4 linked regions of the Homo sapiens genome follow. The protein of the gene in region 3 binds, or shares a complex with, the protein of the main gene of each other region. Each region holds a gene or a part of one and is shown on either strand. Other genes may lie near its edges.

Region 1 (7,024 bases), on a different chromosome or scaffold from region 3:
AGGATATATATATACTGTTCCTTAGAGTAATGACTAAAAAAAAAAAGTACAAAATGTAGCTTAAAAGGCTACAAATTAAAATAGAATTTTAAAAAATATTTAAAACAGAGGCTACCCCCTCCCTCACCTGAGGATGAGAGCCCTGTAGGGATAACCCTTATCTCAGCTGGATTTTAGGACCATTTGCCTCAACAAGATGACTCTGTTGAAACCAAATTGCATGACTCCTTCCAAAGCTCCTGTTTTAATGGCTATAAAGGTATAGAGAGCCATAAAACTCAAAACTTTACTCGACTTACTTTTGCTCAAAGATATTGGTATTTTTTTCCCTACCTCTACTAGCACAACCATTTAACATTTCTAACATATCCTTTATTACCTTTAAACCCAGTGTTATTTATACGTACATTTGTTCCCCAACAAATAATACAGCACTTCTGTTATTTGCCCAGCATCTTTCTAGGCACTGGATAGGCAGCAATGAACTACCGTAACAAAATCTGTTCATGTGAAGCTTACATTCTAGGTATAAGAAACAAATCTATAATGATAAACAAAACACTAAGCCACTCAAGCAAGGTGACAGGTTGGACTTTTTTCCTACAGGTCAGTTTTAAATCACTACTTAACAGTGTAAAACTAGTTTGATGTCACTATATTAAACACAACTTGAATCAAGAAAAAATGCATGACAGGAGAATTACTTGTACATATATTGGGGCCCACCTCTGACTTACAAAATCAGAAAATGGGCAGAAAGTGTAGGGGAAACCCATGCATACTTGTTTTATGAAAGTATTCCCAAGGTAACTCCAAAATCCAACTTTTCCCCAAGTCTCCTCAGCTTTTCAATTTTACATAAGAAACTTTGGTTCTCAATTTGTTCTCAAACCATGAGCCACTTAGGCAGAATATAGAGACCCCACAGCCTACCTACTTTATAGTGAAGAACTTAGTTGTAAATCAATTGGAAAGGGAAACAGAAAATCCAAATGTATTAATTCTTAATAATTCATAGGTAAGAAGTGTTTTTTAAACTTGAGAAATTATGGCCACAATTTATAATCACTTATACAATCTTCCTCAATCCTCATAATTACCCTGTTCTGGTGATTTTTTTTTTAGCCATGTTTTTCAGTGAAACAACTGAAGTACAGAGAATTCAAGCAATTTGTCCACGTAAATTACACCTAGTAAATGGCAGAAGCTAAACTTCAAAGCCAGGTTTATCTGATGCCAAAGCCATATATTTTGTCCCAATGAAAATGCCAACACTAACGAATTGAAGCCAAAATGGTAAATTATAAAATGTAAACAAGTACAGACTCTACTATACAGAAAATTATCCTAGCCTAAACTGATCCATTCGTTCAAAGTTCCAGATAGCAAAGACTGTGATTTAATATAATGAAGCACTACTTCTTTTCAAACATTCATAGTAATTTTAAGGATTCCTTTTTATTTAATTTAGCATACCTAGAATTCACTGTGACTAGGTATACTATGAGCAAAAAATAAAAATAAAAAATCACTTGACCCCATTGCACAAGATTTAGCGTTTTCCTTTGCTACTCTCCTGGAGTCTTACACCCGGTTCCTCTTCCCAACCTACTTACACATTTCAGAACAAGCAATTTCTGTGCATTTTATTTCTATTTAAATTTACATATTTCAATTTACATATTTCAATTTAGTGAGTTTTCTTCTGATCGATATCATCTTTCCCCTTTCAACTTTCATCAGCAAATAATTTCTGGCAATAAAGTACAATCTGTTACATTTCCATGTCTCACAACGTAAGTGTGAAAATGACAATATGGTAAAGTAGACTGCTATCATAGTTCTAACAAAAAATGAATAAAGTATTGTCATTGTCCAGATTTATGCAGAATATGCCTGTTCGGAAATTCTGAGTTCAACATATGCATGCTAATACTTACACTAATCGGAAATTCCTGAAATGAGAGCAATTTATCTAGAGTTTATAGCACTCTCTGCTCTTCTAAGCATCACTATGTGAATTTTATGGTGAATTATTAAATTTCTTTCCCCTTCTCACAAGAAAGCAACTCAACAAAACCACACCTGTTCTCCCGAAGAAAGGATATTTTCCAATAGGAGATATAGTATTCACGAGAGCACTATTAAAAAAAAGATAGTTTTTCTCTCAGTTTCATCAAGCATTAGAAAGCAAAATATTTAATAACATATATAAGTACGTCAGACTGTTAAGCAGAAAACTGTGAATTCTGCAATCATCTCAAAAATTAAGAAAATGAGAAAATATTCAACTAATGGCTGAAATGCACTGCTTTCCAGATGATTTCCGTAGCAAAACACTTCTACCATTGTCACTTCGGTGTTCTCAGTCCAAGTTAGAGGAACTTGCTGAAACATATTGTCATAAAATTGCTAAAGGAAAGGGGAATCAATAGTGAGTTACCTTTAGTTGGCTCCTCTGGCTTCTAAATAGTAAAAACAGGTTTGGTGAATTTCAAACATTTTAACAGAGTTCATATTTAAAACAAAAACAAAAACCAAAACAAAAACCTTAGTTGCCCAATGGGGAAAGTGGTAATATTATACAATACAAAATAAAAACTGTCTTAAAATTATTCTAAATGCCAAAATATAATGGGAGGGGACATAACGGAACGGAATTCTCAGAAAATACCTCAACAACAGCCAAGCCCCCAAGGAACGGATTTTCCTTTTCAGGGAACAAATAGGAGTAACAGATTGGCTTCGCTCTTGAACAATATAAAACAAGATTGCTATGTACTTTCCATATCTGTACTGAAGGAAAACTTACTTGTTTTAGAAAAACCGTTTCTTGCTATTTTTTCCTGTCTTAATTTACATATTAGTGAAAAAATTGCCTCATGATATACCTCATAAGGCCAAAAAATTATAATTTGATGTCAGCATAGAATCACAATTTCAAGAAAATAAAAGGGTCAAAATACTCCTGTCTCTTTCTAGAAAAGTCACCAGGTACAGGTTGAAAATCCTTTATCTGCAGTTCTAAAATCTGTAAAGCTCTGAAAATACAAAGATTATTCTTAAGCATGTGGCAACTCACTTGAGAGCAAAACTTAGCATATACTGACTTGATACTTAATGTGACTTGATACAGTGCAGAAATATTAATGTGTTTTGACTAGAGGATGTTACTCCAGACCCCAAAAGGGGGGATTACTTAATATGTAGTATAGGCACTGCAGTTTTCTAAAATCTACAAGATACTGAAATCAAAACACTTCTGGCTCCAAAAATTACAAATAAAGAGTTGCAGAGCTGTCCTCCCTTTTGCTTCATAGTCATTGCATATGCCAGGTGTGCTGACTCATAACCATTTGAATGACTAGATTGCCAGGTTCAAGTACAGGGCTAGAAGTTGTGCAGACAGTTCTGGACATTGTTTTCTGTAAGAAGTAAGTAATATAAAAGCATTTGACTGGTCTGCAACTCTGTGTGGAGAGTAGACAGCCCAAATTTTCAGACACTTTAAGACAGTAAGACACAGAGGAGTGAAAAAAAAAAAAGACATTTTAATGAACCCAGTGACACCATTATCTATACTGAAAACCTCACATTATAAATTGGGAGGTAGTATTACCCCCATTCATTTCCTGTATCATGAAGCTAGTCTATTTTAGGCTGTTTAAGTAACCAAATAAAGAGTTAAGTGATCCAATCATTTGGAAATACTATTAATTTTTTTACGCATAGGAAGATTCCCCAATGTGCTTCTTTTCAACAGAATGCAGGATCTATGAGAATAGAAATTTGTCTATTTTTGTTAGTTTCAACATTTCAATAAGCTGTCTCTTGATTTACAGTACAGTATTGATTTCTATTTAAGTTGGTTTTAAAGAAAAATTCTACATGTTGAACTTTTTAATGATTCATTTAAAAATAAATTATGATATTTATGGGGCAAATTCCCTTTATCCTGTCCCCTCTCTAGTTTTACTGTCTCATCCCTACACAGCTATTTTGTGATATGTAAGTTCACACTTGATGCCTCTAATTTTTTTTTCTTTTTTTTTTTTCTTGAGACAGAGTCTGACTGTCACCCAGGCTGGAGCGCAGTGGCATGATCTCAGCTCATCACAGCCTCCACCACCCAGGTTCAAGTGATTCTCATGCCTCAGCCTCCTCCTGAATAGCTGGGATTACAGGTGCGCACCACCATGCCCAGCTAATTTTGTGTATTTTTAGTAGAGATGGGGTTTCGCCATGTTGGCCAGGCTGGTCTCAAACTCCTGACCTCAAGTGATCTGCCCACCTGGGCCTCCCAAAGTGCTGGGATTCCAGGAGTGAGCCACCATGTCCAGCCTGATGTCTCTAATTCTTAACCTCTCCTACCCACTGTAATTCAGCTTTCCCTTCCCACTACTCCACAGCACTTACCAATGTTACACAGTAACTTTTTTTCTTGTTGCTAAATCCAGGGGCAGCTTCCTTCTTTTATGGGACATTGCTCTAGCATTTGGCACCTAATCCCCTTCTTGAAGTTCTCACTTGTCAACTTACAGGGACACCACCTTCATTTGTCCATCCCTTTAATATTTACTATGCCTGAGAGTTTAGTATTTGCTCATGAATTTATGTTTTGTTCATTGCTACATTCCCAACACTAGAGGCTCTCAATACATATTTGTTAAATGGATGAATGAATAGTCCTTATCTTTTCTTTCTCCATATTATCTGTGGAAGATCATCTCCATCCCCATAGCTTTAATTAACATGCGAAAACAACTTTTTACTCCAGCCAATCTTCTCTAGAGTTCCAAATCATGATGTCCAATTTGCTACAGGAAACCTCTAAGTGGATGTGCCAAAGGCCATCTGAACTAAAGAAATCCACAGTGGAACTAATTATTTCCTTCTCCCCATCTTAAACCAGCTCTTCTTCTAAGATATGACTTACAAAGCTTCCCAGGTGGCAATTTCCTTTTCCTTACTCCCTGTAAGTCACCAAATCCTACTGATTCTACCAAATCTGCCCATGTTTCCCCCTCATTCTGTCACTGTATATAGGAGGCTGGGGGAAGGTTCCATTTAGGCTAGGGCCATAATTGATATTTATATTCAGTGGCTGAGAAAAGCTGGGTGCAGTGGCATGTGCCTAGAGTCCCAGCCTGGGCAACATAGTGAGATCCCATCTCAAAACAATAGTAAAAGAAGATGAAAAAAGAAAAATGCTTACAGAGAAAATGAGGAAGTATGAAGCTAAGAGAAAAAGTACAGTCATGGTCTTTACTAAAGGCAGTGTCTATGTACGGTGGGGAGATATATACATTACACAACAGACAAGGCATTGAGGACTCTGTCCTTGGGTAAAGAAGAAATGTCTAAGTGCTACAACAATGTCATAAACAAGTGTTACTGGAAAAGAGGGTTTGGGACATACAGAAAGAAGTAGGTCTTGAAGCTGAGTCTTAAAGAACAAGTAGGAATTATCCATATCGAAAGGGGAAAAGGTCATTCAGGAAATACGATAAGCATGTGTAAAGACTCAGAGACAGAGAATTTGGGGATTCCAAGGTGTACATGAAAAACTGAACATGAATAAGATGGAACATGAGAGACTCATTAAGCTAAACTATGAAAGGCTCTGTATGAGTACACTGGATCCTCAAGGTTCTTGGTCACTGCTACATATCCAGAACCTAGGACAGTGTCTGCTACTTAATAAGTTCCAAGTCTAAAATTAAATAAAAAACGGGGAGTGTAGATTTCTGCTGATTACTCCAATTTCTGCCTACATAGAACTTCCTATAATGCCATTTTGTCAACTTGTTCATCAAGGAATACAACAGCAGCGTTGTCTCACCTATTAACTCCTACTTCTTGGAAATACTAAGATTTCCAAGTCTTAGTACATCAAGACAACACTATCAGATGCCACCCCCTATTAGTCTTCACTCCATGTTAACCTGTGGAACAGCTTGAAAACACTTCCTCATTGAGTGAGATGAAAAAAATACTAGTTCCTTTGCAGGCACTGCAAAAGGAAATCTGTCCCTGAAGGTGCAGTTCTTTTAACTTACAAAATCAACCCTAATTACTGAATATGCCATATGCCTTCATCACACATTCAAACCACTCTCTCCTGTCCCAAATCTGTTCCTCAGCTTGCCTAATTAAGTATATGGGTGAACACATTCTGCCAATTTTCAAGGCACAGCTTTGAAAGTCACCTGGTTATTTAATTAGAGAGCCACGTAGTAAACCACATTCTGGTTTAAAGAAAACTTGGAGGTGTTGGCCTCCACAGAGAAATTTAGCCCCTAGACATGCAAGCACTGCATTCTACTACAGAGGCTCCTGTAGCCAGGTCTAAAATAAAGCTATCCTGACAAACTATTTCAGGAAGGACTCACAGGGTAACTTTTCAGGTGGAAGTGCTGAACTCTGTCTAGCTCCACCCATTTATAAGTTAGGCTGAAAGACAGGTTAAACATGAGTCACCGAGTTCCTCCTCCCCACTAGCTAACCCATTCCACAGGAGTTAATATGTCCCAAGGCCAAGGCAGCCCATACCCCGTTTTTGGTATCTGTTCACTAGGAAAGACTTATTAACTTTATTATATAAAGGCTAGCTATAATCCATGCTTAAAGTTTGTACTTTGTTGTAGGTATTCAAATGTCTCTTCCAATGTCCACTTGGGAAATGTACATACTGAGAAAAAGTTTAAGTCTGGGAGTTTGCTGAAACTAGTATGCTCTCTGGCTTTATTGTTCCACCACCCTCCCATGCTCAGATAAACAGAAAAGTAGGGAAATTCGACAAGGGAGGCTTCAAAGTTATAAGAGGGATGCATGAATGTATTACCAATAGCCACTTCTTTCTCGGACTAGCTCCAGGCACCATGAACAAACCATGACCAAGTTAGGGATATGATGAGTAGTACAAAATTCCATTTAAATACAAGTGGACAATAAATTGAAAATATTATTCAAGTTAAGGCATGGGCATCTGAAATACAAAATGCATCACTGTGTTGTCTTTTGG
Region 2 (7,024 bases), on a different chromosome or scaffold from region 3:
AAACTGTGCATCTGAAAAAGGTCTAATGTCCAAAATCTATAAGGAACTAAAACAATTCAGAAAACGAAAACCAAGTAACTCGTGGCCAGGTGTGGTGGCTCACTCCTGTAATCCCAGCACTTTGGGAGGCTGAGATGGGTGGATCACCTGAGGTCAGGAATTCGAGACCAGGCTGGCCAACATGGTGAAACCCTGTCTCTACTAAAAGTACCAAAATTAGCCACGCTTGGTGGCAGGCACCTGTAATCCCAGCAACTCAGGAGGCTGGGGCAGGAGAATCGCTTGAACCCGGGAGGTGGAGGTTGCAGTGAGCTGAGATGGTGCCATTGCACTCTAGCCTGGGTGACAACAGTGAAACTCCATCTCAAAACAAAAACAAAAACAAAAATACACACACACAAACAAAAACCCATTAAAAAAATGCCAAAAGACTTGAACAGACACTTCTCAAAAGACAACATACAAGCGGTTAACAAACATGAAAAAATGCTCAACATTACTAATCAGATAAATGCAAATCAAAACCACAATGAGTTACAATCTCACACCAGTCAGAATGGCTATTATCAAAAAGTCAAAAAAATAACAGATGCTGGTGAGGCTGTGGGAAAAACGGAATGCTTCAACACTGTAGAAGCCAGTGCAGTGTAGAATGCGCCTACACTGATGGAAATGCAAATTAGTTCAGCCACTGTGAAAGCAGTTTGGAGATTTCTCAAAGAAGTTAAAACAGAACTACCATTTGAACCAGCAATCCCATGACTGGATATAAATCCAAATGAAAATAAATTGTTCTACCAAAAAGACACATACACTCACATATTCATCACAGCACTATTCACAACAGCAAAGACACAGAATCAACCTAGATGCTCATTAATAGTGGACTGGATAAAGAAAATTGGTACATATACACCACAGAATACTATGCAGCCATAAAAAAGAATGAAAATCATGTCTTTTGCAGCAACATGGATGCAGCTGGAGGTCATTATAGTGAATATACACAGGAACAGAAAACCAAAGACCGCATGTTCTCACTTATCAGTGGGAACTAAGCAATGGGTACACATGGACATAAAAATGAGAACAGACATAGGGGACTACTGGAGGGAAGAGGGGAGGGAAGGGGTGAAAAACCACCTGTTGGACTCTATGCTCACTACCTGGGTGACAGGATCATTTGTACCCCAAACCTCAGCATCACAAAATATACCCATATAACTCACCTGCACATGTACCCCTACATCTAAAATAAAAGTTGAAATTATAAAAACAACAACAACAACAAAAAAAATGAAATGTGAGTTAGGCAAGTCCAGATTCTAGCTGATCCCTGAGAAATGTACTTTTCTCCAAGTCAATGAATCCAATCTTTAATGGATCTGGGATGCTCTCTGACCAGGTCCTGTTATGAGTTTCCTGTGTTATAATTAAAAACCCCAAACTGATTAAGCATGAGAGGATACTTCCTGCTCTCAGATAAATTATTTATTATATTCTGTATTATCCTTGTAATTTTTCTGGATATGAATAAATAACAATGTATCTCAGAAAAACACATTTTGAAAAGCCTTATAAAGTTAAAACTTTAAATGCTTTTCATCAAAATGTTATGACCAATAAAAATGCCATTCATGTATCTCATCACACTTTCTATACATTTTGTAGTGATATGTATTTATACATACTGCAGTTGGAAATAGGGAATGCTTTTTTGGTTTCCCACGGTAGGCTGCAGGTTTTAAAAGCAGAAGTCCTGAACCTCTGAAGGCAACATAAGAAAAGTATTCATTTGAAACCTGTAGTGTTAAAAAAAAAAAAAAAAAAAAAAAAAAAAGAGAGAGGCCAAGTTCTGTGGCTCACACCTGTATCCCAGCACTTCGGAAGGCTGAGGCCAGAGGATTGCTTGAGATCAGAAGTTCGAGAACAGCTTGGGCAACATAGTGAGTCCTCATCTCTACTAAAAATAAAAACTAGCTGAGCACAGTGGCACACGCCTGTAGTCCCCAGCTACTTAGGAGGCTGAGGGGGAAGAATTGCTTGAGCCCAGCAGATGGAGGCTGCAGAGAGCCTGATGATACCTCTGCACTCCACCCTGGGCAACAGAGTGAGCTCTTGTATCCAAAAAAAAAAAAAAAAAACAAACAAATTTTAAAAAGGGAGAGTCAAGATGTTTGCTCTATTTATTTCTTTTAGGGGGCAAGACAGGAGGTAAAAAAAAAAAAAAAAAAGTTTGGTTTTTGCTTCAAAGAGCTTTTCTCAGAGCAGGGATTTATTTTCATTACATGCAACATGGACAAACACTGTTCTGGTTTTCATGACAATTTGAATTCAAAGTAATATGTTTTTCTAAAATTCAGTGTATTTATTTGGCCATATGGATGCTCCTTGTGTTCTTGGTCACATATTAAAGAAACTGGCACTTTGGCTGCAAGAACAAATAAAAAATATCATAAATCCAACTGGTCTTTGATTTGGGTCTAGGTTAATAACTAAAGAACCATTCAGCAATAATGGCTTGAAACATTTATATATCCTATGAAACCGCAATTAGTTAAGAGGCTGCTGATTCTAATAACTATGACACCAGCAAGGGAGTGAGGGGAGAAATGTTAACTCTGGATGCCAAATTCAGAGCAAAGTATCTATTATCTCCTTCTCACTTTTGCAGTATCTATAAATAAAGTGGTGGGGGGAGAATTATATGAATAATGTTAAATAAAAGTGCATACAGAACTGAGAAATATTTTCATGGAATTTGCCACTTAGTTCTTAAAATTCTTATAAGGAAAATAACCATTTACAACAAAAGACTAGTTACACTGTTGCTGTTTAGAACATGAGAGCAAAATGAGTAACAATCAAATTCTCTGGTTTAAACTTAATTATCTTAAAACATGTTATTCTGTAAGTTGACATCTATGCCTTGAAAATTCAAGGCAGAAAGTAAAATCATTTAGAAAGCCAGAAATTCCATCAATACATCTAGACAGATGTTTGCTTGTAGTTTTTGGTATCCAAAACCTTTTTTCCACACATCGCACAGATGCCTGAAACAAAAGAAGATATGTGATCAATCAAATCATAATACCAACTGTTTGGTTTAAGTCAATCCTGAAGCTTAAAACATAATTTAACAGCATCAGGAAAGAAAAGAAAAGAAAAAAAAAATATATATATATATATAATTTTAATTATAAACAGGTTTTAGGTTCTATTTTGCCTTAGGATAAAGAGAGTGTTTGGCTAACAGAATTTATGACAGGCTACATCTTTTCTGTTAACCAAATTAGCAGCAAATGAAGTCGGTTTTATGAATAGAAAACGGTATTAAAAGAAACTTACCTTTTTTGTAGGCACAGCCCTGGCAGTAATGAGAACCTGGTTGGTGCACAGAACTTTTACAAATTCTACAAGTGGAGAACTTATTCTTTCCATATGGATCAAATCTAGAAATTTTTTTTAAAGAGAGAAAATTGTATATTACACTAGAAACACTCTTAAATAACCCCACTTACGCAACACACAGGATTAATCCATGCTCTCCATCCCTCCATCAACCTCTACAATTGATGGGTTTAGCCTATTCCAGATGGCTACTGTCTGATATGCCTGTACATCTCTGCTCTGCTCCATCCATGTGAGATATATACTTATAAAGAATCAGTTGTACAGTATTTATTCTTGACGTGTTCATATCAGTCGTATCTGTCATTCTATTTGTGTGACATAAATATTATGGAAACTGATGAAATGTGGGTGCAAAAAGAGTGACTGATTCCATATAACCTAAGTGACTATTTTAGGATGACTAGGAATCATATGAATTGCTATTGAATTAGGTATGGGTAAGACAACTGTTGAAAACTGGGGGAAAATCACTAGGAAAGTAACTCCACACCTCAAGCATCAATTTTTGCTCTACTTTAAAGAAACTGAACATATTCTGATTGTGATTTTTGTGACGACAATCATGTAAAGCACTTATCAGTCGATTTATGCTCAAAAGGCTTTGTTTCAATACCAAATGATTAATGCATCTACAGTTATGCGCTTTAATTTAAAATAAAGTATGTGTATCTTTTAATGACTGCTTACATTAGCTGACATTTTTAATTAACTGACTCAATCCTTTTAGATAAAAGGGCTTCCACTATATAAAAATGCCATCTTATAGTGACAGGAGTGAAAAAAAGAAATACTTTCCCCTAAAATGGCAATAATACTCTGATTTAAATGTGCTTCCCTAACATTTTTACAAAATGAGTTTTTGTAATGATCCTCATATACTAGATACGAAACACCGTCCTAGAACTGGTGTCTTCTCTTGGGTATAGTACAACAGCCCATTTACAAAGGTTAATTTTTCCAAACACAGAGAATATCACTTTTTTTTTTTTGAGACTGAATCTCACTCTATCGCCCAGGCTAGAGTGCAATGGCGCAATCTTGGCTTACTGCAACCTCTGCCTCCCAGGTTCAAGCAATTCTCCTGTCTCAGCCTCACAAGTAGCTGGGATTACAGGCATGCGCTACCACGCCCGGCTAATTTTGTATTTTTAGTAGAGATGGGGTTTCTCCATGTTGGTCAGGCTGGTCTCGAACTCCCAACCTCAGGAGATCCGCCTGCGTTGGCCTCCCAAAGTGCTGGGATCACAGGCGTGAACCACTGCGCCCAGCTGAGAATATCACTTTACTCCCCACAAAAGATAGGTACTCTTCTTCCTTTCAATAAGTTCAATTTGTTTGGACATGTATTTCCAGAGGCTATTTTTTCTTAAAACCATATTTTATTATTCAAAAATACACATTGTAACCTTGGAAATCTTTTTTTTTTTTTTTTGAGACGGAGTCTCGCTCTGTCGCCCAGGCTGGAATGCAGTGGCGCAATCTCGGCTCACTGCAAGCTCTGCCTCGTAGGTTCATGCCATTCTCCTGCCTCAGCCTCCCGAGTAGCTGGGATTACAGGTGACCGCCACCACGCCCGGCTAATTTTTTTGTATTTTTAGTAGAGACAGGGTTTCACCATGTTAGCCAGGATGGTCTCGATCTCCTGACCTTGTGATCCGCCTGCCTCGGCCTCCCAAAGTGCTGGGATTACAGGCGTGAGCCACCGCACCCGGCCTAACCTTGGAAATCTTAAAACTGGCAGAGTTTTTTCTTAAAGTAACAATGCATCTTATAAATAACAGTACCATAGATTCCAAGCAATACTGTAGTACATTTTCCAAAGTAAGAGAGTACCCAAGAGTTACAGCTACTTTTTAATGATATCAGAGTAAGTTTGAGAGCATAAAGGAACTGGAAGTATATAAAAGCATAAAATCTGTACAAATAATAGCTCAGTCAATAAAAACAGAATGGTTCTCAAAGACCTCAATAAGTCAGTCAATAATATATAGTGTGAATCTGCATTAAAGATGCTATTATGTGCTAGGCACTGTATGTAGTTAAGGCTTTATTGTTGTTATTTCTAATCCTTGGGATGACATCAGAAAACAGGTATTTATTCATTCAGCAAATATATACTGAGTGCTTAATATTACATGGTATTTACTGTTCTAAATACCAAAGATGAACATGATAGGCAAAGCCCTTGCCCTCATCAGATAATATTGTAGTGAGAAGAGGTAAACAGTAAGTAAGGAAACAGACAATCTAATAAAACAAGCAAGGTTTTCAAATAGTAGTATTATAGAGAAAATTCTAACAGGATACTAAGGCAGAGATGAGGAAAAGGAAAGAAGAGATTAGTTTAGATGCTGATTAGGGAAACTTCTCTGAAGCTGAGACCCAAACAGCAAGAAGGAGGCAGATACGTAAGCTCTAACGGAAGACTCCTAGGAGACAGCAGCAAGTACAAATCTCTTTGGATGGGAGTGGGCTTGGCAGAACTAATAAAGACAGCATATGATGAATGAGGAGCAGTGTGGTACAATACGAAGCCGGAGAGGTGGGAGGGGTCATATTAAGGAGGACCTTGTAAGAACATGGTAGGGGGCTTAAATTTTATTCTATGTGAAAAAGAAAACCAGTGGCGGATTTTAAGCAAAGGAACTTTGTAAAGGATCACTCTCGTTACTATGAGACAACTGCGGGAAACTAGAGAAGCAGGAAGATAGTTCAATAGTTATTACAGTTCCAAGTAAGAAATAACAGTGGTTTGGAAAAGGGTAATAGCAGTGAGATGTACAGAAGCAGGTGGTTTCAGGTTACATTTTACGTTTTGGAGGTAGATCCAAAGAACTTGCTGATGGATAGGGGAAGTAGGGGAAAGGGAGGACTCAGTGAGGAATTCTAGCTTTTAGGCTTGAACAAGTGGATTAGAGAGTGGTGCTACTATGATGAGAAGACGGAAGGAAAAAGAAGTGGCCTGTTAGACATTAAATGAGGTATGTCAGATAAACTGCTAGATATACGTTTAGAGCTCAGAGAAGTCAGGCCAGAGGTATAAATTTGGGAGTTATATATATATAATAATATTATAATATATATATAATAATATTATTACATATATATATATATAACATATAGCTTGAATTTAAAGCCAGTAGATTGAAGTCACTCTAAAAGGTCACTTGTGATCTCGACAAGAACAGTTTCAGGGCTGTTGTGGGGATAACACATGACTAGAGTGGCTGAAGGAGGGAAAGGAACTTAAGGACACTGAAAAAGTGTCTAGGTAAGACTTTGGAAAACTTCTGATGTGAAGGGGAGCAAAGAAATCAGATGGCAGATGAAAGGGTTCACGAAATTTTTTTTCTGAAAGAGACTCTCACTCTGTCAACCCAGGCTGGAGATCAGTAGTGCGATCCTGGCTCACTGCAGCCTTGACCTCCCTGGGATCAAGTGATCCTCCCACGTCTGCCTCCTGAGTAGCTGGGACTACAGGCGCGTGCTGCCACACCCAGTTAATTTTTCTGTCCTTTGTAGGACAGGGTTTCACATGTTGCCCAGGCTGCTCTCAAACTCCTGGGCTCAGATAATCTGTCTGCCTTGGCTTCCCAAAGTGCTAGGATTA
Region 3 (7,413 bases):
TGTTGGCCAGGATGGTCTTGATTTCTTGACCTTGTGATCCACCCGCCTCGACCTCCCAAAGTGCTGAGATTATAGGCGTGAGCCACCGTGCCCAGCCAGACATTTTCAACTCTGCATGTCTCAGGTCGGGATCCAGATCACCCAACCACCCAAGCCTACCCTATCTACAGCGTTCCCCATCTGCTTTGATGGTAACTCCATCCTTCTAGTTCTCTGGGCAAAAACTCTTTTGTCAACTTGATTCCTCTTTTTCCCTCACATCCTACATGAAATCTGTAGGAAATGGCCGTTTCTTACCATGGCCTAAGCCTCTGTCATCTCTGTCCTGGAATCTTTCTGGTCTCTCTGCCTCCACCCACGTTCCCTGACAGTCTGTTCTCCACAGAGTGGTCTGAGGGGGTTGTGCTAAAACCTAAATCATAACATGTCACTCTTCAAAACCCTCCCAGGGTATGGGTACAGTGGCTCATGCCTGTAATCCTAGCACTTTAGGAGGTCAAGGTGGATTGATCACTTGATGTGAGGAGTTCGAGACCAGCCTGGCCAACATGGTGAAACCCCATTTCTACTAAAAATACAAAACAAAACAAAACAAAACAACAATAAAAAAAACAACCAACAGAAAATTAGCCAGGCGTGGTGGTGCACGCCTGTAATCTCAGCTACTCGGGAGGTTAAAGTAGAAGAATTGCTTGAACTCAGAGAGTCGGAGGTTGCAGTGAAGTGAGATCATGCCACTGCACTCCAGCCTGGGTGACAGAGCGAGACTCTTGTCTCAAAAAATAAATAAATACAAATTAGAAAATACAAAAATTAGGCCAGATGCGATGGCTCACGCCTGTAATCCCAGCACTTTGGGAGGCCGACGCGAGGTGGATCGCCTGAGCTCAGGAGTTCGAGACCACCCAGGGCAAGATGGTGAAACCCTGTCTCTTCTAAAAATGCAAACAAATTAACCAGGTGTGGTGGCGCATCCCTCTAGTCCCAGCTACTTGGGAGGCTGAGGCAGCAGAAACGCTTGAGCCCCAGCAGCGAAGGTTGCAGTGAGCCAAGATTGCGCCACTGCACTCCAGCTTGGGCTACAGAGTGAGACTCCATCTCAAAAAAAAAATTAGGCCGGGCGCGGTGGCTCACGCCTGTAATCCCAGCACTTTGGGAGGCCGAGGCGGGCGGATCACGAGGTCAGGAGATCGAGACCATCCTGGCTAACACGGTGAAACCCCGTCTCTACTGAAAATACAAAAAATTAGCCGGGCGAGGTGGCGGGCGCCTGTAGTCCCAGCTACTCGGGAGGCTGAGGCAGGAGAATGGCGTGAACCCCAGGGGGCGGAGGCTGCAGTGAGCCGAGATTGCGCCACTGCACGCCAGCCTGGGCGACAGCGAGACTCCGTCTCAAAAAAAAAAAAAAAAAAAAAATTAGCTGGGCATGGTGGCGCATGCTTGTAATCCTAGCTACTTTGAAGGCTGAGGCAGGAAGATCGCTTGAACCCAGGAGACAGAGCTCGTGCTACTACACTCCAATCTGGGTGACAGAGCGAGACTCCATCTCAAACAAACAAAACAAAAGAAAACCCTCCCATCCTCCCCCCATCTCAGTGTAGAAAGTAAAACCCCGACCAGACACGGTGGCTCACACCTGTAATCCCAGCACTTTGGAAGGTCGAGGCGGGTGGATCATTTGAGGTCAGGAGTTTGAGACCAGCTTGGCCAACATGGTGAAACCTGGTCTCTACTAAAAATACGAAAGTTAGCTGGGCATGGTGGTGGGTGCCTGTAATCCTAGCTACTCGGGAGGCTGAGGCAGGAGAATCGCTTCAACTCAGGCGGCGGAGGTTGCAGTGAGCTGAGATCGCACCATTGCACTACAGCCTGAGCAACAGAGCAAGGCTCCGTCTCAAAAAAAAAAAAAAAAAGAAAAAGAGAAAAAGATTTTTCTTTTCCCTTGGGGACTAGAGGTTTCATTCACTGATGTATCCTATGTAGCTTAAGCAGTGTCTGATACATAAGCATTCAATGTAATATCTGCTGCACTAATAAATGCGCAAAATCATGTCAATGACTCGTTCGTTATCCGTGTAAGTTGTGAATCAAGTCGAAAACGCACCCGTCTCCAGCTCAAATGATCAAGATAAGTCCCTTATTTCAAATAATTATTTCTAAAAGTCCTAACTTCCCTCCCCCATTATTCGTTTTATTTCTTTTGTTTCGTTTTGAGATGGAGTCTTACTCTGTCGCTCAGGCTGGAAGTGCAGTGGCGCAATCTCGGCTCACTGCAACCTCCGCCTCCCGGGTTCAAGCGATCCTCCGGCCTCAGCCTCCCGAATAGCTGCAATTACAGGCGCCCGCCACTACGGCCGGCTAATTTTTGTATTTTTGTTAGAGACGGGGTTTCACCACAATGGCCAGGCTGGTCTCAAACTCCTGACCTCAGGTGATCCGCCCGCCTCGGCCTCCCAAAGTGCTGGGATTTACAAACCTGAGCCACCGCGCTCGGCCTCCCCCAGTATTCGTAAAATCGCTGCCCCTTAACATTCATTTCAATAGGACTAATTATCTAGGACCACTCCCGTTATCGTTTAAAACATGTTTTTCATAATTAAATTTTTTTTTTTTTTTGTAGAGACGGGGGTCTCGCTATGTTGCCTAGGCTAGTCTCGAACTCCTGTGTTCCAGCGATGCTCCGCCTTGGCCTACTAAAGTGCTGGGATCACAGGAATGAGCCCCCGCGCCCAGCCCAGGGCGTTATCTGATAAAGCTGTCCCCTCTCCCGAAGTCACGATGCGTCAAAGGCCCCACGCCCGTTCTCAAACTCATCAGGAGAAAAGCAGGACGCTGCATCCCTAAAACATCTGCCCCTGCCCCCCCCGCTCTGCTCAACCCTTCCCACACTCAATCGGTCAAATATCCACCCTCAACCTCATTCCCGCCGCCTAAGCCTAGCCCGGCCTCACATGATGGTCACTACGCTCTCCGTTCACTCCCGTTTCCTCCGCGTTGCTGCTGCCTGAGGAGAGAGAGGCGGGACTTCCTCTTCCTGCGACCCACTTCCGTTGGCGCCTGCGCAAAGCCAACCAGTAAGTGGAGGCGTGGCCTGTTGCCACAGCATTCCCCACCAACGGTGCACAATGATGGAATAAAAGCTTCGGGTAGGGGTTCGCGGCCAGTCAGAACCACACGGGGGCAGATGTTTATGACAATGAAGACAAAAGGAAAGGCAGTCTGATTCAAACCGTTTCTTGAAGAATGGTACAGGTTGAAGGAGGGAAATGACAAGCTATTTCCAAATGCCCGCCGGCCGTGACTTCGGGGGCGCGGCCTCCGTGAAGCCAATCCGCTCCTCGCTTCGGAGACAGGCACCGCCCCTCTTCCCTCTGGGACGCGTTACTGACGTATCTACTGATCTTTCCGACCCTGCGCCACCAATCCCCTGCCTACATCCGGAAGGGGCATGGACCTGCGCCCGGGAGATCGAATATTTTCCATGATCAAACGCTGTTCATTGGCTTTCCCTCCTCCGCTAAGGCGGAGCCTACTTCTCTTGCGCTCCCATTTGGGTCGTGCCATTCTCAGGGGAACCAACCCCAATACCTAAGGGAGGCTGGGAGGCGTGTCCTCAGGACCGTAGTTCTTATTGGTTTCGCTGCTCGCTGTGGGGTGGGCTGGTGCAGCCGCAGCTGTTGCTTATTGGCCCACCGATTCCATGGGGAGGAACTTGGCTGGGCCTAAACTCAATCCGTGGTCTGGTACAGGTTTCAGGGCAAAGCGGCCATGCGTTCCGGGGGCCGCGGGCGACCCCGCCTGCGGCTGGGGGAACGTGGCCTCATGGAGCCACTCTTGCCGCCGAAGCGCCGCCTGCTACCGCGGGTTCGGCTCTTGCCTCTGTTGCTGGCGCTGGCCGTGGGCTCGGCGTTCTACACCATTTGGAGCGGCTGGCACCGCAGGACTGAGGAGCTGCCGCTGGGCCGGGAGCTGCGGGTGAGGCTGGGCGGGGACCCGGGCACCGCGGGGACCCTCATTCCCTCCCCGCTGTTACCCAGGGTTGACGTGGCTTTAGCGTACGGCCCTAACCGCAGATGCCACCGTCTTCGTCATCTGAGCGCATGACCCTTACCAAAGGAATAAGGCTTCGGGCTGGTTCTGCAACAGTAGCTTCCTTTTAAGAGGAAAGGTCTGAAATAGTAAGACGGGGGGGTTCAGGGTTCTACGCCTTTAGTCAACTATTTGGAAGAGTCCCTTCCTCCATCTCCCCTCTCTCTCACTGGGCCTCGATTTCCCCATCAAGTTTGAGGTAGGCTGGACCGGATGGTCTTGGAAGGACTTTTCCTGAGCCTTGGATTTATCCTAGAAGTCTCCGATGCTGGAGGCGGCAGATTAGGAAGAGAACCCGGGGCTCCTCGCGGGTGACGGCGCCCGGGGTAGGGTTGAAATGGGGGGGTTGCTCTCATTCTTCCCTTCCCTATCCCACCTCCTTCCCAAGGTCCCATTGATCGGAAGCCTCCCCGAAGCCCGGCTGCGGAGGGTGGTGGGACAACTGGATCCACAGCGTCTCTGGAGCACTTATCTGCGCCCCCTGCTGGTTGTGCGAACCCCGGGCAGCCCGGGAAATCTCCAAGTCAGAAAGGTAAAGGGACCCACCTCCAGTCCCTGACCCCCTAGCCCTCCAGGGAATGGGAAATAAGAATCCTGTTCAAGATCCCAAAGAAGCTAAGAGGAGGAACTGGGGCTCTGACTGGAGTTAATCGGACTCTAGACTCCATGCTGGTAACAAACCACCAGGCTGTACTGCCCCCCTTAATGCCCCCACCAAAAGCTTACTGTGTGCTAGGCATAGGCAACAGACAGCCCTATAAGGTGGGTACCAATATGATCTTCATTATGCAGATGGGGAAACTGAGGCTCAGAGAGGTTATACACATTGCACAAATCCTACAGATAATAAGTAGTAGACCTTAGCCGGGTGCAGTGGCTCATGCCTGTAATCCCAGCACTTTGGGAAGCCAAGGTGGAAGAATCACCTGAGAAGTTTGAGACTAGCCTAGTCAACCTAGTGAGACCCAATGTTTAGAAAATCATAGACCTAGAGTTGAACCCAAACAGGTTGGCTCCGAGCTGGTGCTGTAATGTATCTGTTGTCTTCCAGAAAGCATGAAGAGTCATTTAAAGGCCAGGCGCAGTGGTTCACACCTCTAATCCCAGCACTTTGGGAGGCCGAGACAGGCAGATCCCTCGAGATCAGGAGTTTGAGACCAGCCTGGCCAACATGGTGAAACCTCATCTCTACTAAAAATACAAAATTAGCCAGGCGTGGTGGTGGGTACCCGTAGTCCCAGCTACTTGGGAGGCTGAGGCACGAGAATCACTTGAACCCAGGAGGCGGAGACTGCAGTGAGCTGAGATTGCGCCACTGCACCCCAGCATGGGTGACAGAGCGAGACTCCATCTCAAAAAAAAAAAGTCACTTAAATACTGCCTGAGTCCCAATGCTACCTCATCCACTTAGATTGTGACCTTGGACTGGTTTCTTTTTTATTTTATTTTATTTTATTTTATTTTGAGATGGAGTCTCACACTGTCGCCTGGGTTGGAGTGCAGTGGCGCGATCTCGGCTCACTGCAACCTCCACCTCCCAGGTTCAAGCAAATCTCATGCTTCAGCCTCCTGAGTAGCTGGGATTACAGGTGTGCACCACCATGCCTGGCTAATTTTTTGTATTTTTAGTGAGACGGGGTTTCACCATATTGGCCAGGCTGGTCTCAAACTCCTGACCTTATGATCCGCCCACCTCAGCCTCCCAAAGTGCTGGGATTACAGGCGTGAGCCACCGCGCCCGGCCTGGACTAGTTTCTTAACCTCTCTGAGCCCATTTCCTCATCTGTAAAATGGGGTCATGTATTGGCAGTCCCTCCCCTAAATGGTTCCTAGAAGAGGGCTTAGCACACAGTGAGAGCTATTTAAGGGTAAGCTGTGATGAGTCTTGCTGGCTTCAAGAGGTGGGGTCTCCCCAACATCTGGCACCCAGTAGGTACTCACCAGCACTGTCAAGGGAATGATTTTAATCAGAGTAGGGGGCTGGGCACAGTGGCTCACATCTGTAATCCCAACACTTTGGGATGCTGAAGCAGGCAGATCACTTGAGGTCAGGAGTTCGAATACCAGGCTGGCCAACATTGTGAAACCCCATCTCTACTAAAAATACAAAAAATAGCCAGGCGTTGTAGGGGGCGCCTGTAACCCCAGCTACTCAGGAGGCTGAGTCAGGAGAATCACTTGAAGCCAGGAGGCAGAGGTTGCAGTGAGCCAAGATCAAGCCACTGCACTCCAGCCTGGGTGACAGAGCAAGACTCCATCTCAAAAAAAAAAAGAAAGAAAGAAAGAAATCCATTCAATCAGAGTGGGGCTTTAGTGTCAACCCATCTGCTCTGCATGGCTCAGGTCACGTGGCCCTTCTCCCCACCTCCTCCCCAGTCCCCGTCCACCCTCCCACCTCTCTCTTGCCGCTAGTTCCTGGAGGCCACGCTGCGGTCCCTGACAGCAGGTTGGCACGTGGAGCTGGATCCCTTCACAGCCTCAACACCCCTGGGGCCAGTGGACTTTGGCAATGTGGTGGCCACACTGGACCCAAGGGCTGCCCGTCACCTCACCCTTGCCTGCCATTATGACTCGAAGCTCTTCCCACCCGGATCGACCCCCTTTGTAGGGGCCACGGATTCGGCTGTGCCCTGTGCCCTGCTGCTGGAGCTGGCCCAAGCACTTGACCTGGAGCTGAGCAGGGCCAAAAAACAGGTGAGGAGCAGGAGTCGGGGAGGGTAGTGGGCTACCTCCACCTTTTCCCAAGCCCCCACCCTCCCTTGCCTGGACATTTGTCATCCCTCTCGTCTTCCCACTCTACTCCACGCACAGAGCCACAGGGATCTTTTTTTTTTTTTTGAGACGGAGTTTCGCTCTTGTTCCCCAGGATGGAGTGCACATGGCGAGATCTTGGCTCCCCGCAACCTCTGCCTACTGGGTTCAAGCAATTCTCCTCCCAACCTCAGGTGATCTGCCCACCTCGGCCTCTCAAAGTGCTGGGATTACAGGCGTGAGCCACCGCGCCTGGTCATCACAGGGATCTTTTTACCTTCTAGATGTCAGATTCTCTTTCCTCTCCCCCAAACCCTCCCAGGGCTCCCGCCTCATTCCAGCCATAATCCAGAGTCCTTATATTGGCCCACGAGCTGTGCCCTGTTACCTCTCCAGCCTCATCTCCCACCCCTCACCTCTTGCTCACTCTGCTGTAGCCACCCCCACCTCCTCTGGGTTCCTCAAACCCGCAGAGCTTGCTCCCACCTCAGGGCATCTGCACTTGCTGTTTGCTTTGGATAGAATGTGCTTTTCTGGCCAGGCTCCGTGGCTCACACTTGGAATCCCAGCACT
Region 4 (7,024 bases), on a different chromosome or scaffold from region 3:
AGTGCTTAGTTCTGCTCTTGCCGGGTAGTTGGTTGGTGCATGTGTGGTACAGCCACTCTGTAGTATACATCTTGAGCACGTGGGAAAGGTAAGACCTTAAGAGGGAATGCTTCGAGGCTCCACGGGCCCTCAGAGAGACAGGAAGAGCCACAGCACGCAGTGTCTGCTTCCCAGCAGCAAAGTGATTTCCCACTGTTGCTGCACAGCTCATAAATAAATCCAAAAATGGCACAGGGTTTTATTAGCTGCTCTTCATCTTTACCTCTAAGAACAGGTCACTGGTACCCTCAACTCTTCCTAGAACTCTAAATGCTAAATGACTCAAAAGCTTTAAAATCATGCAGTGAATGTTAGGTTAAAATGTTGTGCAGTGACCTTGAGCCGCAGCACTCTTCTAATTGTTCCCCATCCGGCAAGCATCTACTATATGGAACGGAGAAAGGCGTAAAGACAGAGGGGACTTTGCCTTTGAGTTAGGGTGGGTGGTTGTGTCAGAGCTGGAGGTAATGAAACCGTGTGTAGAGTGGCTCATGAGGCCTGGGGATAGTCGAGACTTAACAGTGGGAATGCTGCTTCTTTGCTTAGTCGGCTGGCCGGTTGATGCGAGCGATATTTGAAATTGTCCTGAACCGAGGTTGGGCACAGCTTACAGACAAGACCCTGAACCTCTGCAAGATGATCGACAAACGCATGTAAGGACCCAGTGAGCTGGATGCTGGTCACCATGAGTGGGGGTCCCCAACCCAAGGGTCTGATGGGAAAGCCTCAGGGTGCATCTGATCTCCAGACCTGACATCGGAAGTATGACCTGAACCTTGGTGCACATTGAGAAGAGGGAAGGCCCTCTGTGGTGGAGGCCAGGGCTGGCACAGTGTCAGTGTCTGCCTTTAATGACTGTGTTTTGTGTAGTCACTGCTAAACTATTGGAAGCCATGAAGTGGGTGGTTTGTCACATCCCTGCAGAAGGGACCAACAGCTTTGCCTCCTTCCTGGATAGGTGGCAGTCCATGTGTCCTCTGCGCCAGTTCCGGAAACTCCCTGAGGAAGTAGTGAAGAAGATTGAGAAGAAGAATTTCCCCTTTGAGCGTCTGTACGACCTGAATCATAATGAGATTGGTGTGTGGGATGCTCTCGCCCTTGTCCTCACTGCCTGGGTGTCTCTCCCAGTTTGCCTATGTAGTCTTCCTGTTCCTAGGCCTGTGCATTAGTATCCTGTGTTCACTCCCCAAGTCCCACTGAAGTACAGGCTGGCCCTTGGTCTGGGGACTTGGAATCCTGGGCTCCACTGACCATAAAGGGAAGACCCTACCCCTTTCCCACAGTGGCCCTCAGGCCCAGTTTGCAGTATAGTAGGCAGGCTGGGCTGCAGCCTCAGTACTCTCATTTCCTTGTAGGGGAGCTTATCCGCATGCCAAAGATGGGGAAGACCATCCACAAATATGTCCATCTGTTTCCCAAGTTGGAGTTGTCAGTGCACCTGCAGCCTATCACACGCTCCACCCTGAAGGTGGAGCTGACCATCACGCCAGACTTCCAGTGGGATGAAAAGGTGAGGCTTTGCTGGGCAGAGGTGCTGGATTGGAGGTGCTCAGTCTACGTTGCTGGGCCGAGGAGATGGATTGGAGGCACTCAGTCTACGTTGACTCACATTCCTTTTACCCTTGCTCCTGTTGGCAGGTGCATGGTTCATCCGAGGCTTTTTGGATTCTGGTGGAGGATGTGGACAGCGAGGTGATTCTGCACCATGAGTATTTTCTCCTCAAGGCCAAGTACGCCCAGGACGAGCACCTCATTACATTCTTCGTGCCTGTCTTTGAACCGCTGCCCCCTCAGTACTTCATCCGAGTGGTGTCTGACCGCTGGCTCTGTGAGTGTCTCCTCTCCAGAGTCCCCAGGAACAGTCCCTCCAAGGACAGTAGAAGAATGTCTTGCACTTTGTCCCGGGCTTGCCCTTGCTGGGGACAGAGTGATACATATGCTGCCTAGGTTTCCAGTGTTCATGGAGGGGATCTAGAGGCCAGTGAGGGAAAGAGAGCAGTGCTTATATCCTTCCTGTTTCTTTTCTGGCAGCTTGTGAGACCCAGCTGCCTGTCTCCTTCCGGCACCTGATCTTGCCGGAGAAGTACCCCCCTCCAACCGAACTTTTGGACCTGCAGCCCTTGCCCGTGTCTGCTCTGAGAAACAGTGCCTTTGAGAGTCTTTACCAAGATAAATTTCCTTTCTTCAATCCCATCCAGACCCAGGGTAAGTGTTTCCATCCCTCCTCTGGAGGCTTTTGAAGTCACCGGGAGACAGATGTGCTCTGTGGCAGGCAGGGGAGTGGGGGTGCTCAGGCACTTGGGAGGTCTGGGAGCTCCTCAGTGTGACCGCTGGGACCCACCAGGACTTTTTCCTTTGTCAGAAGCCTTTGGTTGCTTTGCTGCTCTGCATGTGTCACTGTGGAGGGGCAATAGAGCAAGGCCTTACATGGCATGGTCATTTCTCGGGCCCAGGAGGCTTAGAGGCCTGCCCCTGGCGCTCAAGTATTGAACCAGAACCATGGGGTGGCACTGAAGCCTCCTCACCACATCATGATAAATAACGGGGACATTCACAGAGCAGGCACTGTTTCCTCAGTCCATGGCTGAGTACATCACCGGTGTTTTCTCTCTTATTCCTCCCATCAAGCCTAAAAGGAATCTCTATTGGAGATACTGCCATTAGTGTTCCTTTTATAGGTGAGGAACTGAGGCATAGAGGGTTCCCCAGTTGAACCAACTGATAAATAGTAGAACTTGGATTTTAATTCAGTCTTGATGCCAGGGATAAGGCTCTTACTTTCTACCTTAGGCTATTTCTAGGAAACGCAGGAGAGTGTTGAAGGGGCAGAGAAAGGGATCCAGTTCCTTTCTGTCCCGCATCCTAGTCCCTGAGAAGCAAAGAAGAATGTGTGGCTTCTTTTGCTTTGCTTTTGTTGTCATCCCACACATCTCCAGGGGACCTGGGCTCTTGATCTTGGCCTCTTCCCCTTTAACTGTTAAGTGGGAGCAGGTAAGGGGGTACAGTAGGGCTGGCCTGGAGTTAGAGGCTTGGATGCCTTAGCTCCTCTGTCTGCACTCCAGAACTGCCTGACTTCATTTCGTATGTTGTCCTTTGTTTTGACAATTGATCCATGTCCCAGTCCGTCTCTTCTTCCTTCTTGATACTTACACTGCTTCTTTCTGTTGGTTTCCAGTGTTTAACACTGTATACAACAGTGACGACAACGTGTTTGTGGGGGCCCCCACGGGCAGCGGGAAGACTATTTGTGCAGAGTTTGCCATCCTGCGAATGCTGCTGCAGAGCTCGGAGGGGCGCTGTGTGTACATCACCCCCATGGAGGCCCTGGCAGAGCAGGTATGACGTGGCGCTGTGTCATGTGAATTTCCCAAGAAGCATTTCATCTGTGATTCCGTATGAAGGCTTTCTAAGCCCTGAAATTTGCAGGGTCATTTCCTCAGTTTGTGTATTAAAGAAAAGCTGCCCCAGCCAAGCGTGGTGGCTCACGCCTGTAATCCCAGCACTTTGGGAGGCCGAGGCGGGCAGATCTCCGGAGATCAGGAGTTCGAGACCAGCCTGGCCAACATGGTGAAACCCTGTCTCTACTAAAAATACAGAAATTAGCTGGGCGTGGTGGTGTGCGCCTGTAATCCCAGCTACTTGGAAGGCTGAGGCAGGAGAATCGCTTGAACCCGGGAGGCGGAGGTTGCAGTGAGCCAAGTTCGCACCACTGCACTCCAGCCTGGGCAACAAGAGCGAGACTTCATCTCAAAAGAAAAAAAAAAAAGAAAAAGCTGCCCCATCGCATCGCATAGAGGCTGCTATGGGATTAGAACGTAGCTTGAGATCTGCAGGTCAACAGGTCTGTTTGGCATCTCAGGTTTTCCTCACATAAGTGAAAGATGCCTGGTATGGCCTAGTGTTGTTCTGCCTCCCTCCTCTGCCCGCCAGGTATACATGGACTGGTACGAGAAGTTCCAGGACAGGCTCAACAAGAAGGTGGTACTCCTGACAGGCGAGACCAGCACAGACCTGAAGCTGCTGGGCAAAGGGAACATTATCATCAGCACCCCTGAGAAGTGGGACATACTTTCCCGGCGATGGAAGCAGCGCAAGAACGTGCAGAACATCAACCTCTTCGTGGTGGATGAGGTCCACCTTATCGGGGGCGAGAATGGGGTATGGCGTGACCTTGCAGCACAGATGAGGGACTGGGACTGACCAAGTGGCCTTGGCATTGGACCTAATGTTTGGGTCTGAGGACGGAGGCTCGGGGCTTCTCCCCAGAGGATTCTACCTGCTGCCCTATTCCAAAGGGACAATGTTAACTTTTTTGGTAGTACTTTAGGAAAACAGTATTGTTTAGTGGAGGTTGGCTGCCGTGGAGGAGGTAGAACCAAACACATGAGAGCTCCTAGTTAGAAGGAAGAATGAGGTCATTTTGAGGCTGTTGGGCTGTTCACAAAGGGGACCTCCAGGCAGAGGATGGGAGCCTTGGCCTGCAGTGACCCTCCCTCCCTCCCTCTTTCCAGCCTGTCTTAGAAGTGATCTGCTCCCGAATGCGCTACATCTCCTCCCAGATTGAGCGGCCCATTCGCATTGTGGCACTCAGCTCTTCGCTCTCCAATGCCAAGGATGTGGCCCACTGGCTGGGCTGCAGTGCCACCTCCACCTTCAACTTCCATCCCAATGTGCGTCCCGTCCCCTTGGAGCTGCACATCCAGGTAGGACCCACTCTCCTCATCCGTCTGTGGGGTGTCACATAGATCCTGAGTGACCCAGGTCTGATAACCTTGGTGTCTTTTCTTCTCCCCGGTCGCCAGGGCTTCAACATCAGCCATACACAAACCCGCCTGCTCTCCATGGCCAAGCCTGTGTACCATGCTATCACCAAGCACTCGCCCAAGAAGCCTGTCATTGTCTTTGTGCCGTCTCGCAAGCAGACCCGCCTCACTGCCATTGACATCCTCACCACCTGTGCAGCAGACATCCAACGGCAGAGGTAGGTGGGGCCTGGCGTCTGGGGGTTGGGGTTAGGTTAAGTGAGGCTGGCCTACTCCAAGGGTGTCCTCTTTATGAGGGTGGGGTTAGCCCATGTTGCTTGGGGCCAGGTTCTGCACAGCTGGCAAAGTGTCTGCCAGGAATTGAACTACTCTGAGCTGAGCCAGTGCCTGTACCGCACAGGTTCTTGCACTGCACCGAGAAGGATCTGATTCCGTACCTGGAGAAGCTAAGTGACAGCACGCTCAAGGAAACGCTGCTAAATGGGGTGGGCTACCTGCATGAGGGGCTCAGCCCCATGGAGCGACGCCTGGTGGAGCAGCTCTTCAGCTCAGGTAAGTCAGGCCACGGAAGGGGAGCATAGCAAGGGTATCACCAAGTGGTGGTGTTAAACTTGAGGGGTGCGGGTGGCAGTGTTTTCTCTACAGCATACCAGAGATTTTCAAAATACTGTTTAGGACTCTTGGCTGTTAACTCATTTGATCCTCCCAAGAACCTCGTGAGGCAGGTGAGACAAACACTATCCCTACTTGCCAGGTGAGAAAACAGGCAGACACATCAGGTTGTGCTATTTCAGAACCTGGTTTTCTAGAGTCCAGGACCTTTGGCCACCAGACCGCTGATTCTCCGTGGATACCAGACTCCCCAAGTGTATTAGTCCGTTCTTGTATTGCTATAAAGAAATACCTGATACTGGGTCATTTATAAAGAAAGGAGGTTTAATTGACTCAGTTCTGCAGGCTGTACATGAAACATGGTGTTATCTGCTTCTGGGAAGGCCTCAGGGAAGGCAAAGGGGAAGCAGGCATCTTATATGGCAGGAGTCAGGACCGAGAGAGTGAGTGGGGAGGTGCTACACACTTTTGAACAACCAGATCTCGTGAGAACTCATTCACTAGACAGTACCAAGGGTGGGTGGTGCTAAACCATTCATGAGAACTCTGCCTCCATTAGCCAGTCATCTCCCACCAGGCCCTTCCTCCAACACTGGAGACTACAGGTCGACGAGATTTGGTGGAGACACAGATCCAAACCGTCTCACCAAGATAGTTAGACTTTAGAGATTAGCACAGAGGAGAGCTCTGATTCTCCCTTGAGCTCACTCTTGCTGGCCACTGTCTCTTGTTGCCCTGTGGCATTTTGTGCAAAGATTTACGTTTTAATACTGTTTATTGGAGCCTCATTGGAGATTCTTCTGCCAGAATCACTTCCTGTCACTCTTTGGCCCTTGAATCTGCCTGTTTGGGGCATGCTTAGAGTGATCTCTGTTTTGCTGGCATGGCTGAGCCAGCCCGTGGCTGCATGAGTGTTAGCACTTTCTGGTCAGAGGAGCAGTCCATCAGCTGTAGTTTTGCCTTGGTGTTCCTGGGCTTTGGGTTCTGTTCTATGATGACTTGTTTTCTCCTGGATAGTCCCAGAGCAAGGCACCAGCAGCGTGGAGCTACCTCATAGCAATGTGTTAGCTCTCATTCATGTTAGACCTTGTTCCTAGCCAGCCTTGCTGTGAGTTCTGAAACATAGCACAGGGTAAGCCACGGCCTGCCCATGAGGCAGTGAGCCTACTTCACCCGGAGACCCCTGCCCTCAGCCTTCCTCTCCCCTCTACTGCTCAGGGGCTATCCAGGTGGTGGTGGCTTCTCGGAGTCTCTGCTGGGGCATGAACGTGGCTGCCCACCTGGTAATCATCATGGATACCCAGTACTACAATGGCAAGATCCACGCGTGAGTACAACTGGTGCTCTGTGTTAGCACAGACCTCCTTCCTAAAATGAATGTGAATCTGCAGATACACAGAAAGTAAGCTAGGATGAAGAAAAGGTGTTAGGGAAGTTAACAGCTGAGATGCCACCAGAGCCAAGTGTTTGAGAGTTTTGTGTCTCAATACCTAGGCTCACATTTGCTTTTTAGTCATTGTGCTTCCTTATTCAGCAGCTGGGAGAGGTAGGAAATTAGAGCCAGGAGGAATGTTTGACGTTACGTCATTAATCTCAGACATCTTGTAGAT

The links.
Region 1: SNRPD2 (region 3) and CWC22 share a complex: the UniProt entries of both Homo sapiens proteins name them as parts of the minor spliceosome.
Region 2: SNRPD2 (region 3) and CRIPT share a complex: the UniProt entries of both Homo sapiens proteins name them as parts of the minor spliceosome.
Region 4: SNRPD2 (region 3) and SNRNP200 share a complex: the UniProt entries of both Homo sapiens proteins name them as parts of the U4/U6-U5 tri-snRNP complex.

Annotation. Positions count from the first base shown.
Region 1 is NC_000002.12:179,997,288-180,004,311, forward strand, and holds part of CWC22 (pre-mRNA-splicing factor CWC22 homolog), read right to left. Parts: intron 2,620-7,024; exon of another isoform or gene 2,444-2,619; intron 1-2,443. UniProt on the Homo sapiens protein: Required for pre-mRNA splicing as component of the spliceosome. As a component of the minor spliceosome, involved in the splicing of U12-type introns in pre-mRNAs. Promotes exon-junction complex (EJC) assembly.
Region 2 is NC_000002.12:46,620,192-46,627,215, reverse strand, and holds part of CRIPT (cysteine-rich PDZ-binding protein), read right to left. Parts: intron 3,453-7,024; coding exon 3,349-3,452; intron 3,054-3,348; coding exon 2,989-3,053; 3' UTR 1-2,988. UniProt on the Homo sapiens protein: As a component of the minor spliceosome, involved in the splicing of U12-type introns in pre-mRNAs. Involved in the cytoskeletal anchoring of DLG4 in excitatory synapses.
Region 3 is NC_000019.10:45,688,936-45,696,348, forward strand, and holds the start of SNRPD2 (small nuclear ribonucleoprotein Sm D2), read right to left. Parts: upstream 3,019-7,413; 5' UTR 2,954-3,018; coding exon 2,952-2,953; intron 1,733-2,951; exon of another isoform or gene 1,637-1,732; intron 413-1,636; exon of another isoform or gene 298-412; intron 1-297. Other genes in the region: QPCTL (glutaminyl-peptide cyclotransferase-like protein), read left to right, coding at 3,769-3,975, 4,478-4,621, 6,502-6,783. UniProt on the Homo sapiens protein: Plays a role in pre-mRNA splicing as a core component of the spliceosomal U1, U2, U4 and U5 small nuclear ribonucleoproteins (snRNPs), the building blocks of the spliceosome.
Region 4 is NC_000002.12:96,281,531-96,288,554, reverse strand, and holds part of SNRNP200 (U5 small nuclear ribonucleoprotein 200 kDa helicase), read left to right. Parts: intron 1-585; coding exon 586-692; intron 693-997; coding exon 998-1,116; intron 1,117-1,394; coding exon 1,395-1,549; intron 1,550-1,677; coding exon 1,678-1,867; intron 1,868-2,070; coding exon 2,071-2,244; intron 2,245-3,214; coding exon 3,215-3,375; intron 3,376-3,969; coding exon 3,970-4,197; intron 4,198-4,550; coding exon 4,551-4,742; intron 4,743-4,841; coding exon 4,842-5,020; intron 5,021-5,202; coding exon 5,203-5,354; intron 5,355-6,632; coding exon 6,633-6,741; intron 6,742-7,024. UniProt on the Homo sapiens protein: Catalyzes the ATP-dependent unwinding of U4/U6 RNA duplices, an essential step in the assembly of a catalytically active spliceosome. Plays a role in pre-mRNA splicing as a core component of precatalytic, catalytic and postcatalytic spliceosomal complexes.